2 linked regions of the Homo sapiens genome follow. The protein of the gene in region 1 interacts with the protein of each later gene in a pairwise test. Each region holds a gene or a part of one and is shown in the gene's direction. Other genes may lie near its edges.

Region 1 (5,254 bases):
AAGATGGGTGCAATCTATTCGGGATGCAAATCCGAATGAATGTTATTCAAATGCTCCTCTCTTCTTTATGCAGAGTGTATTTCAAGGCTCAGCCAGTGGCAGGCATGCTGGGGACTATGGACTACGGACTAGGGGCCTGTCACAGAGGAAGGCCTCATGCTAGAGAGCTAAGGGAGGAGCTGGCCTTCAGTTCCATCCCAGGAGCAACTTTGATGTTCCCAGAGATCCTTCCAAAGGGGGAGTCATGGTCACCCAAGAAAAATGTATTCAGAATGCCAAGAATGGTGCAAACTCAGGACAAAGATTCACACTGCAGGGTTGGAGTCCCTGGGCTTGCTGCTGGCACCATGGGAGGGAGGGTCCCCTTCAGGGGTACCGTTGGTTTCCTGTGAATTAAACTGGCTTCAAGGGATCTCGACTGAACAGGCCTATATCACACTCACTGATATACTCTCTCTTCAGTCCTTCTCCTCATCTAGGTATTTTTAATTGTTTCAGTGAGGTGTAGGCATGAGGGGATTGGAGGGGGCATCTCCTCCATTGCAGTTTTTCATTGGCTGCTTTGCTCCCTCAGCTCCGAAATCGCTGGGCCACTCTCGAACGCATTAGTACGGTAGTCACAGGTTGATTGCCTGGCCCCTTGCCCTCTGTGGGCATTTTCCCTTTCAGACAGCCCCTGAGTACTCACAGTGCTGCTACAGTGGGCCACCTAGATCTCCCTCTTTCTCCATGCTCCCACGTGCTCTGGGCTCCACTCCCTTCTCCCAAGCACTTCTGTCCAGGGCTATTCCAGCAGTCTGACCTCAAGGAAATCCTTTGCTAAACTGATTATAGAGAGGTTTCTATTTTAACATTTAGGTCTTCCATGTATTAATTCTCAGAATCAATTTAAGATGTTTAAAGGTGTGATTTAAGACATTTTAAAACCATTTGGAGGAGAGTACAGAAATTATGTCACTTGCTGTCAGCCTCTTTGCACCATCTGCAGAGAAAGATACTAGAGTCCCGCCTTGGACACATCCACATGCAAGAGGTGCAAAGAAGGTGTCTTTGATGAGGCAAGGTCAAAACTTCTCCCCAGACGAAATCCAAAGAAAGCATTCCTACTATGCTATATCAGTTTGGAAAGAAAAACTTCTGCCAGGTGACTGCATTCTCACTGGTCACATTGTGTTCCTATGGACTCCTCAGCTCAACCAATTTGGAGAAGTTATGGTGCAATTTCACCATATCTGGTTAGAAGTTAAGTTTCCAATTTGCTGGCAATGAAGAAGAAATGGAGCAGGCCAGGCTGTGTAGTTTCTGCCACGTGCCCCCGGGAGTGAACAGCTCTGTTTGTAAGAAGCCATGGTGCTTAGACCTGGGCTCGCTAGTTGCCAGCCTCCAAATTGCAGAAGTGCCCTTTGGTTGGTGGCTATGCTGTGTCACTTGGGAAGGTCGTTTGGAAGTTCCACAGTCGTTGTGGGGTGCCAGAGATTAAAAAGCGTAAGAGGAGAGTGGAAAGTGATTGTTGCTGCTTGGGCATCCCCACCGTGTGGGTGCTGCAGCCCAGCTCTCAAAACCCATGGGTCTGTACACTCAACCTCCATGAGAGGGAAGGAGAAGGATGAGGGAGGGGAGAGATAGCCATGGAAAGGTAGGAACTAAGCAGGCAGGGTGGAGAGTTTTCTGTAAGACAAAAACTGTCTGGACACTGCTGCGGTTCTGTTACAAAGACCACTTCCTCCCTGGGCCAGCAACATATCTGTGTGCCTGTCTGGGTTGTAAAAAGGGTCAAAGATCAATGCAGCAGGCAGCTACATGCTGGCAAAAGCCAGAGGCAGCTGGTCTGTTTGCCTGTGCCAGGAAACCACTGGGAATGGGGTTGTGTGTTATTCTAGGAGAAAGTCGTCCCAGCAGCAGCTTCTCCAGGGGCATCCAAGAGCACTGAAAAGGGTTGCAAGATGACCCATGAGGCTGCAGGAAGAAAAGAACATGCATTTAATCTTGCTATCTGAAAAGTAAGACATGAAGCTTTCCTCATTTTTAATATACACATGGACAGTAGTATGTGTATATAGTTTATATGCAAATATACTTGTTATAAGGTTGCATGCTCAAAATTTTTGGTTCATGGGGTGTGGGATCATAAATGTTTAGGGACCATGGCTATCAAGGAAAAACAGCATGAAGGATAAATGATACTGGTGGATTAAAAAGACAGATGCATGTATTTTTAGCATAAAACACAACTGCTGACTGATACAGATAGCTCAAGATTCTGGGGCAGCTGCTGAACAGATACACTAGCCAGTGTGGCTCATCGGCTCAGACTTGGCCTTAATTAATGGGCTGTCCCTCCACCCATCTCCCATGAGGGCAGAGCTGAGCCAGGGTTTGAGAGCTAAAAGGAATTGGACCTGGACTCTGTTCACGTGTATATTTTAATTCTAATTAATTCATTCTTTTGAAAGACAGAGTCACACTCTGTTGCCTAGGCTGGAGTGCAGTGGCACGATCTTGGCTCACTGCAACCTCGGCCTCCCAGGTTCAAGTTATTCTCCTGCTTCAGCCTCCTGAGTAGCTGGGATTATAGGCACATGCCCCCATGCCTGACTAATTTTTGTATTTTTAGTAGAGACGGGGTTTCACCATGTCAGGCTGGTCTTGAACTCCTGACCTCAGGTTATCCACCCGCCTTGGCCCCTCAAAGTGTTGGAATTACAGGTGTGAGCCACCGTGCCTGGCCTGTTCACATGTATAAAACACAGTTTAATGTCCTATTCCCAGCCAATGAGCATGGCTAGAGCAGCCTTGGTCAAAGTTTGGTTTTTGGAGAAAAATCCTTGTTAGCTGACCTAAGATTCCTCTTTGTGAGTGTAAGTAAGCACAGGTTGCAGAGAGGAGAAGGGTCTCTGGAGAGGTGTAATTTTCTAAATGGATTACAAGTTCATGGACTTTTAACAGGTGTTACAGGGGATAACAAGTTCTTTATAGACAGACTTTTGAGGACGTTTAAGGGTATTCTGATTCTTGGTTTTCTAAGAGGGGAATGTATTATTTAACTACAGACACCCCTACCGCCCACTTTTTGCAGAGTGTATCAAAACATGTTTTTGGAATACCACCCTCATGTCGCTTCTCCCTGCATCTCTTATCTCTTGGTGTCCATTCTAGACTCACTTTCTTTCTGTTTTTTATTTTTATTTTTTTTTGAGATGGAGCTTCACTCTGTCACCAGGCTGGAGTGCAGTGGTGCAATCTTGGCTGACTGCAACCTCTGCCTTCCGGGCTTAAGCAATTTTTGTGCCTCAGCCTCCTGAGTAGCTGGGATTACAGCATGCACCACCATGTCCGGCTAATTTTTGTATCTTTAGTAGAGACAGGGTTTCACTATGCTGGCCAGCCTGGTCTCAAACTCCTTACCTCAGGTGATCTGCCCGCCTCGGCCTCCCAGAGTGCTCAGATTACAGACGTGAGCCACTGGTGCCTGGCCTAGACTCACTTTCAAGTGGCATAGACTTGTAAAATTATTTAAAGGTGATAGGTCTACAATGATCCTGTCAATTAGTATTGACACTATTATTAATAAACTGTTATTAATTATATTTACTTACTTTAAATTAATCCAAACTAATTAACGGAACACTAAAGAGTTTCTATGTTTTATTCCCAGAGGTGGAGAAAAATGAAAGGGAATATAGCAACGAATTCTTTTCTCCATAAAAACATGAATAGTGCAGCACATCAAGTTGAACATACCACAGCAAATTGTTGCAAGATCTGCTGAGTAGCTCCTATTTAGACCTCAAGGAATGAGACTCAAAATGGGTTCATCAGTTCTGTTTTGCAGAAAAAATAGCGCAAAATTTCTCAAAAGAAAATCCAGAATAATAATAATTTGTCAATAGGAAAGACATTTCCACTGGGGGTTAAGAAGGAAGACATTGGAACAATGATAGCCACCACTTATTGAATGCTTACTGTGAGCCAGGTGGCACTTCACCTTGTTTCATTCTCACAACAGTCTAGGGAAGTAATTACTAATGTCTCCATCCACCTCTTGTAGATGAGCAAACTGAGGCTCATTGAGGCTAGGAAATGCACCCACACTCACATAGCCCATAAGAGGCAGCCATGGCATTGGGCCCAGACCATGTGAACTTCAAAGACTACACGAGCAGCCACTGGGCAGCTGTCATGGCTAAAGCCACTTGAATTCAGCCCAGCAGCAACCCCCTCTCCAGGAGGGGCACATAAGCTTGCAGCTTTGGGTAGAAGCTGCACTTGAAGTCCTGGATGGCGAGAGGGACTGGCTTGAGCCAGAGCCAGGAACAAGGCTCTGAGAATATTCTGGAAATCCACAGGAGGAACCCATTTTCTTACAGCTGGGAGAATTTCATTCAACTCCAGGCTGACCATGTTTTATTAGGAACGAAGGTGACTTGAACTAATAGTCAGGAATGGTTGAATACGGACCCAATGTCAAATCACTAGGCAGTTCACATTTCTAATGAGCAAATCCCTTAGACAATTAAGAATTTTTTTCCTTTTGCATAACCCAGACAAAATCGCTACTTAAAAACAAACCAAAGACCCGAAACATGAGAAAGAGAAGGAAGCAGGGGAAATCTTTGGTACTAATAAGTTTTTAAACAATAAGAGCACCAGATATTTTACCCCATCAGACACAGAATGTTATTCGAATAACCAAAAAAGGAATTTTTTCTCTAAGTTTCTTGAACTGGAAAATGAATCATATTTTCTCAGTCCTGAGGCTGCAATTTTGTGCCTCTAGTAACATATAAGAATAGATGTGATGCCAGTGCCCAGTAGCTGCTGCAATTGTTACTTGGGGACCTGTTTATTCACTAAGCACTTCACCCCAGTGATAAATTTGTAGGGGCCTCCTGCCCTTTGGAGCTCCTACCGTGTCCATTAGATCAGTGGAAATTCTGGGATTCAGAGCACTTTGCAAGGTCAGCAGGGGTCTGCTCTTTCTGTCCTGTTCCTGGTTTTTGGTTGTGCCTGGATTCCAGGGTAGGTTTCTCATCTGTTACCTTCATAGACTTCTCCAGAAAAGGATCTTTTGACCATCAGAGGACCACGAAGATTCCATTGGTGAGGCGCAGATAACCTGATCTCTCTGGGTTCTCTGCAGGGCACAGATGAAGGGCTGGCCATTCCCAAGTTCTCAGTGGTACCACTGAGGCATGAGACCCTAATGGTTTGCATGAGCAGTTTGAAAATTGCATCTTTGTTTTTACCTATATAA
Region 2 (4,624 bases), on another chromosome or scaffold:
TGAACCCAGGAGGCGGAGGTTGCAGTGAGCCAAGATCATGCCACTGCACTCCAGCCTGGGTGACAGAGCGAGACTCTCTCAAAAAAAAAAAGAAAAGAAAATGAGCTGTTCATATTCTCCCACACACCCTCCCCCGGGTCCCCTGTTCTTCAGGAGACGCACAGGATCTACAAGCAGAAGCTGGAGGAGCTGGCTGCGCTGCAGACGCTGTGTAGCAGTTCCATCAGTAAGCAGAAGAAGCACCTCAAGGACTTGAAGCTTACACTCCAGAGGTAGGTGCAGCTGTAGCCCGGGGGCTGCCCTGGTTCTGAGGGACAGAAGTCCAACTCAAAACAGGCTGAAGCAGAGAATGGAAATCTCAGTGGAAAAAGACAGGACTGGGAGTTGCTTCAGGCATCACTGGATCCAGGAGTCAAAGGGTGTTTTGGGGCATGTATTTTTCCCTCTAAATTCTGCCTTCCTCTGGATTGGTGTCACTCTCAGGGTGACTGTCCCCTTCACCAGCAGTGCCAGGCTTATATTCTCCAGCCTTGCTTCCTGCCGGCTGTGCCACCCTGGCTGAAGGAGAGTGTCTCTCTTTTTTTTTTTTTTTTTTTCTTGAAATGGAGTCTTTCACTCTGTTGCCCAGGCTGGAGTGCCATGGCATGATTTCGGCTCACTGCAACCTCTGTCTCCTGGGTTCAAGCGATTCTCCTGCCTCAGCCTCCTGAGTAGCTGTGATTACAGGCATGAGCCACTGTGCCTGGCCGAGAGTTTCTCGTTCCCAGTACTTCAGCCGACATTCTGGGTTCAGTCCTCATTGGCTGGGATTGGTTGAATGCCCATTTGTGAACCAATCACTGAGAAGCTGCTTGGGCAGCGCCATGCCGTGTGCTAAGTCTGTGGCCCTGGGCGGTGGAGGGATGGCCACATGGGTGATGGGAGAAGAAGATAAGTAGTTTCCCGGGTGAAAGTTGGGTGCTGTTATAGGAAGGTGCCCTGCCGGACAAGTAAGCAGGCAGCGTCCTTTTGTGGGTGTGGGGTGCCCTCCCCACTGGGGTTGCTGGTGTAGTGGCCACTAGGCTGCCATCCCTGGTGGAGATGTGCTTGAGCTCATAGCTTAGTTCAGTTCCCAAGGCCTGGATCGTGTTCATTTCCTGACACTCATGGTCTCCAGGTCTGGGAAGTCCCCTCCTGCCTGGTATGTGAAGGGGCCCAGTGGATGCCGTGACCCCATTGTCAGGCAGGGAAACTGAGGCTCCAAGTGACTTGTCCCAGGTCACTTAGCTGGGCCTCCATTTTAGAATCTGGGACTCCTGGTCAACTCTTTCCTTGTGGACAATTTTGGAGGAAGGTCCTGATTATAGCTCTCAGTGTGGCTGGCCATTTTGGAAATGGAGGCCCGCAACTAAGGGGTAGAGAGTGTGGATGGCCCTGTGCAAACACGTCACCAGATGTGGCTTTGGAAAAACACATCTTGGTAATGGCAGGGCTCAGAGTCTAGAGTTTCTTCAGATTCTCAGTGATTGCTTCACAGATGGGCACATGGCGAACCCCAGCACTATTGATGGGTCTTTGTGGGGGCCGTGCAGTGCACTGTGGGATAGTGAGTAGCATCCCTGGCCTCTGCCCACTGATGCCAGTAGCACTCCTGCCCCAGGTGTGTCCACCAAGATCTCTCCAGGCATTGCCAGCTGTCCTCAGTTGAGAAGTGCTGGGTTAGAAGGTTGACCCGTGAGTTAGGGTCTTAGACCAAGGACCCCTGTCATTCTGAGATGTGTCTGCTGACTTGTTTTCTGGTTTTGAGAGTTCCGTGTTACCAAAGAATAACAGACCATGATTGGTCGACTGCTTATGCTTTCAGGTGCCTTTTTGTCTGTCTCTTGGTCATCTGTAGGTTATTCCTTTATTTCTATTTTTTAAAATTATTTTCATTCATTCATTCATTCATTCAGAGATGAAGTCTCGCTCTGTTGCCCAGGCTGGGGTGCAGTGGTGCAATCTCGGCTCACTGCAACCTCTGCCTCCCGGGTTCAAGCAATTCTTCCTGTCTCAGCCTCCCGAGTAGCTGGGATTACAGGTGCCCGCCACCACGCCCAGCTAATTTTTGTACTTTTACTAGAGACAGGGTTTCACCATGTTGGCCAGGCTGGTCTCAAATTCCTGACCTTAAGTGATCATCCTGCCTCGGCCTCCCAAAGTGCTGAGATTACAGGTGTGAGCCACCATGCCTGGCCTTACTTTTTTTGAGATAGTGTCTTGCTCTGTCACCCAGGCTGGAGTGCAGTGGCGCAATCACGGCTCACCACAGCCTTGATCTCCTGGGCTCAAGCGATCCTCCCACCTTAGCCTCATGAATACTAGGACTACATGCATGTACCACCATGCTTGGTTGTTGTTTTTTGTTATTGTTGTTGTTGTTTTTGAGATGGAGTTTTGCTCTGTCACCCAGGCTGGAATGCAGTGGTGCTATCTTGGCTCACTGAACCTCTGCCTCCCGGGTTCAAGTGATTCTCCTGCCTCAGCCTCCCAAGTAGCTGGGATTATAGGGGCCTGCCACCACACCCAGCTGATTTTTATATTTTCAGTAGAGACAGGGTTTTGCCATTTTGGCCAGGCTGGTCTCGAACTCCTGACTTCAGGTGATCTGCCCACTTCAGTTTCCCAAAGTGCTGGGATTACAGGCATGAGCCACCACACCCAGCCCCTGGTTGTTTTCTTAAACCGCCCCCCCACTTTTTTTTTTTTTTGAGACAGAGTTTCGCTCTTGTTGCCCAGGCTGGAGTGCAATGGTGCGATCTTGGCTCACTGCAACCTCTGCCTCCCGGGTTCAAGCGATTCTCCTGCCTCAGCCTCCCGAGTAGCTGGGATTACAGGCATGCACCACCATGCCCAGCTAATTTTGTATTTTTAGTAGAGACGGGGTTTCTCCATATTGGTCATGCTGGTCTTGAACTCCCAACCTCAGGTGATCGGCCCACCTCAGCCTCCCAACGTATTGGGATTACAGGCTTGAGCCACTGCACCCGGCCTTGGTTGTTTTCTTTAATTAATTTTTTATAGAGACGGGGTCTTGCTATGTTAGTCAGGCTGGTCTCAAACTCATGGCCTCAAGTGATCCTCCTGCCCTGGCCTCCCAAAGTGCTGGGATCATAGGCGTATGTGCTGGGACTATAACATCATGCCTGCTAGCTATTTCTTTAGAAAAATGAGAAGAAGGCCGGGCGTGGTGGCTCACGCCGGTAATCCCAACACTTTGGGAGGCCGAGGCAGGCAGATCATGAGGTCAGGAGATCGAGACCATCCTGGCTAACATGGTGAAACCCCATCTCTTCTAAAAATACAAAAAAAAAATTAGCTGGGCGTGGTGGCAGGCACCTGTAATCCCAGCTACTTGGGAGGCTGAGGCAGGAGAATGGCGTGAACCCAGGAGGCGGAGCTTGCAGCGAGCCGAGATGGCGCCACTGCACTCCAGCCTGGGCGACAGAGCAAGACTCTGTCTCAAAAAAAAAAAGAAAAGAAAAGAAAAATGAGAAGAAAAATAGTATTGTCAGTAATTATCCCTTGAGCTCATACTATCAAGTATTATTCTAGATGCTCTATGCTGTACTTACTCATTTAATCCTCACCAGGCTATTGTCTGTGAGGTAGGCTTGAGGTTATCCCGGCTTTTCAGGTATGGAAAATAAGGCAGAGAGGTTTAAGGACTTTCTGAAAGTCACAAGACTACCTGGGAGGCAGCATCACTCCTCCAACCCCGAGAGTTGAGATGGGGAACTGCGGTTGCGAGAGGCACTGGGGTAGAAGGTGGGAGGCTGGGGTAGAAGGCGGGAGGCTGGGGTAGAAGGCGGGAGGCACTGGGGTAGAAGGCGGGAGGCTGGGGTAAAAGGCGGGAGGCTGGGGTAGAAGGCGGGAGGCTGGGGTAGAAGGCGGGAGGCTGGGGTAGAAGGCGGGAGGCTGGGGTAGAAGGCGGGAGGCTGGGGTAGAAGGCGGGAGGCTGGGGTAGAAGGCGGGAGGCTGGGGTAGAAGGCGGGAGGCTGGGGTAGAAGGCGGGAGGCTGGGGTAGAAGGCGGGAGGCTGGGGTAGAAGGCGGGAGGCTGGGGTAGAAGGCGGGAGGCACTGGGGTAGAAGGCGGGAGGCTGGGGTAGAAGGCGGGAGGCTGGGGTAGAAGGCGGGAGGCTGGGGTAGAAGGCGGGAGGCTGGGGTAGAAGGCGGGAGGCTGGGGTAGAAGGCGGGAGGCTGGGGTAGAAGGCGGGAGGCTGGGGTAGAAGGCGGGAGGCTGGGGTAGAAGGCGGGAGGCTGGGGTAGAAGGCGGGAGGCTGGGGTAGAAGGCGGGAGGCTGGGGTAGAAGGCGGGAGGCTGGGGTAGAAGGCGGGAGGCTGGGGTAGAAGGCGGGAGGCTGGGGTAGAAGGTGGGAGGCACTGGGGTAGAAGGTGGGAGGCTGGGGTAGAAGGTGGGAGGCACTGGGGTAGAAGGTGGGAGGCTGGGGTAGAAGGTGGGAGGCACTGGGGTAGAAGGTGGGAGGCTGGGGTAGAAGGTGGGAGGCACTGGGGTAGAAGGTGGGAGGCTGGGGTAGAAGGTGGGAGGCACTGGGGTAGAAGGTGGGAGGCTGGGGTAGAAGGTGGGAGGCACTGGGGTAGAAGGT

The links. The genes of interacting proteins can lie anywhere in the genome.
Region 2: the proteins of ALOX5AP (region 1) and TMEM120B interact in binary tests that used the Homo sapiens proteins (3 or more experiments, as listed by UniProt).

What each region holds. Positions count from the first base shown.
Region 1 is NC_000013.11:30,744,745-30,749,998, forward strand, and holds part of ALOX5AP (arachidonate 5-lipoxygenase-activating protein), read left to right. Parts: intron 1-1,880; exon of another isoform or gene 1,881-1,950; coding exon of another isoform or gene 1,951-2,000; intron 2,001-5,254. UniProt on the Homo sapiens protein: Required for leukotriene biosynthesis by ALOX5 (5-lipoxygenase). Anchors ALOX5 to the membrane. Binds arachidonic acid, and could play an essential role in the transfer of arachidonic acid to ALOX5.
Region 2 is NC_000012.12:121,743,476-121,748,099, forward strand, and holds part of TMEM120B (transmembrane protein 120B), read left to right. Parts: intron 1-153; coding exon 154-272; intron 273-4,624. UniProt on the Homo sapiens protein: Necessary for efficient adipogenesis. Does not show ion channel activity.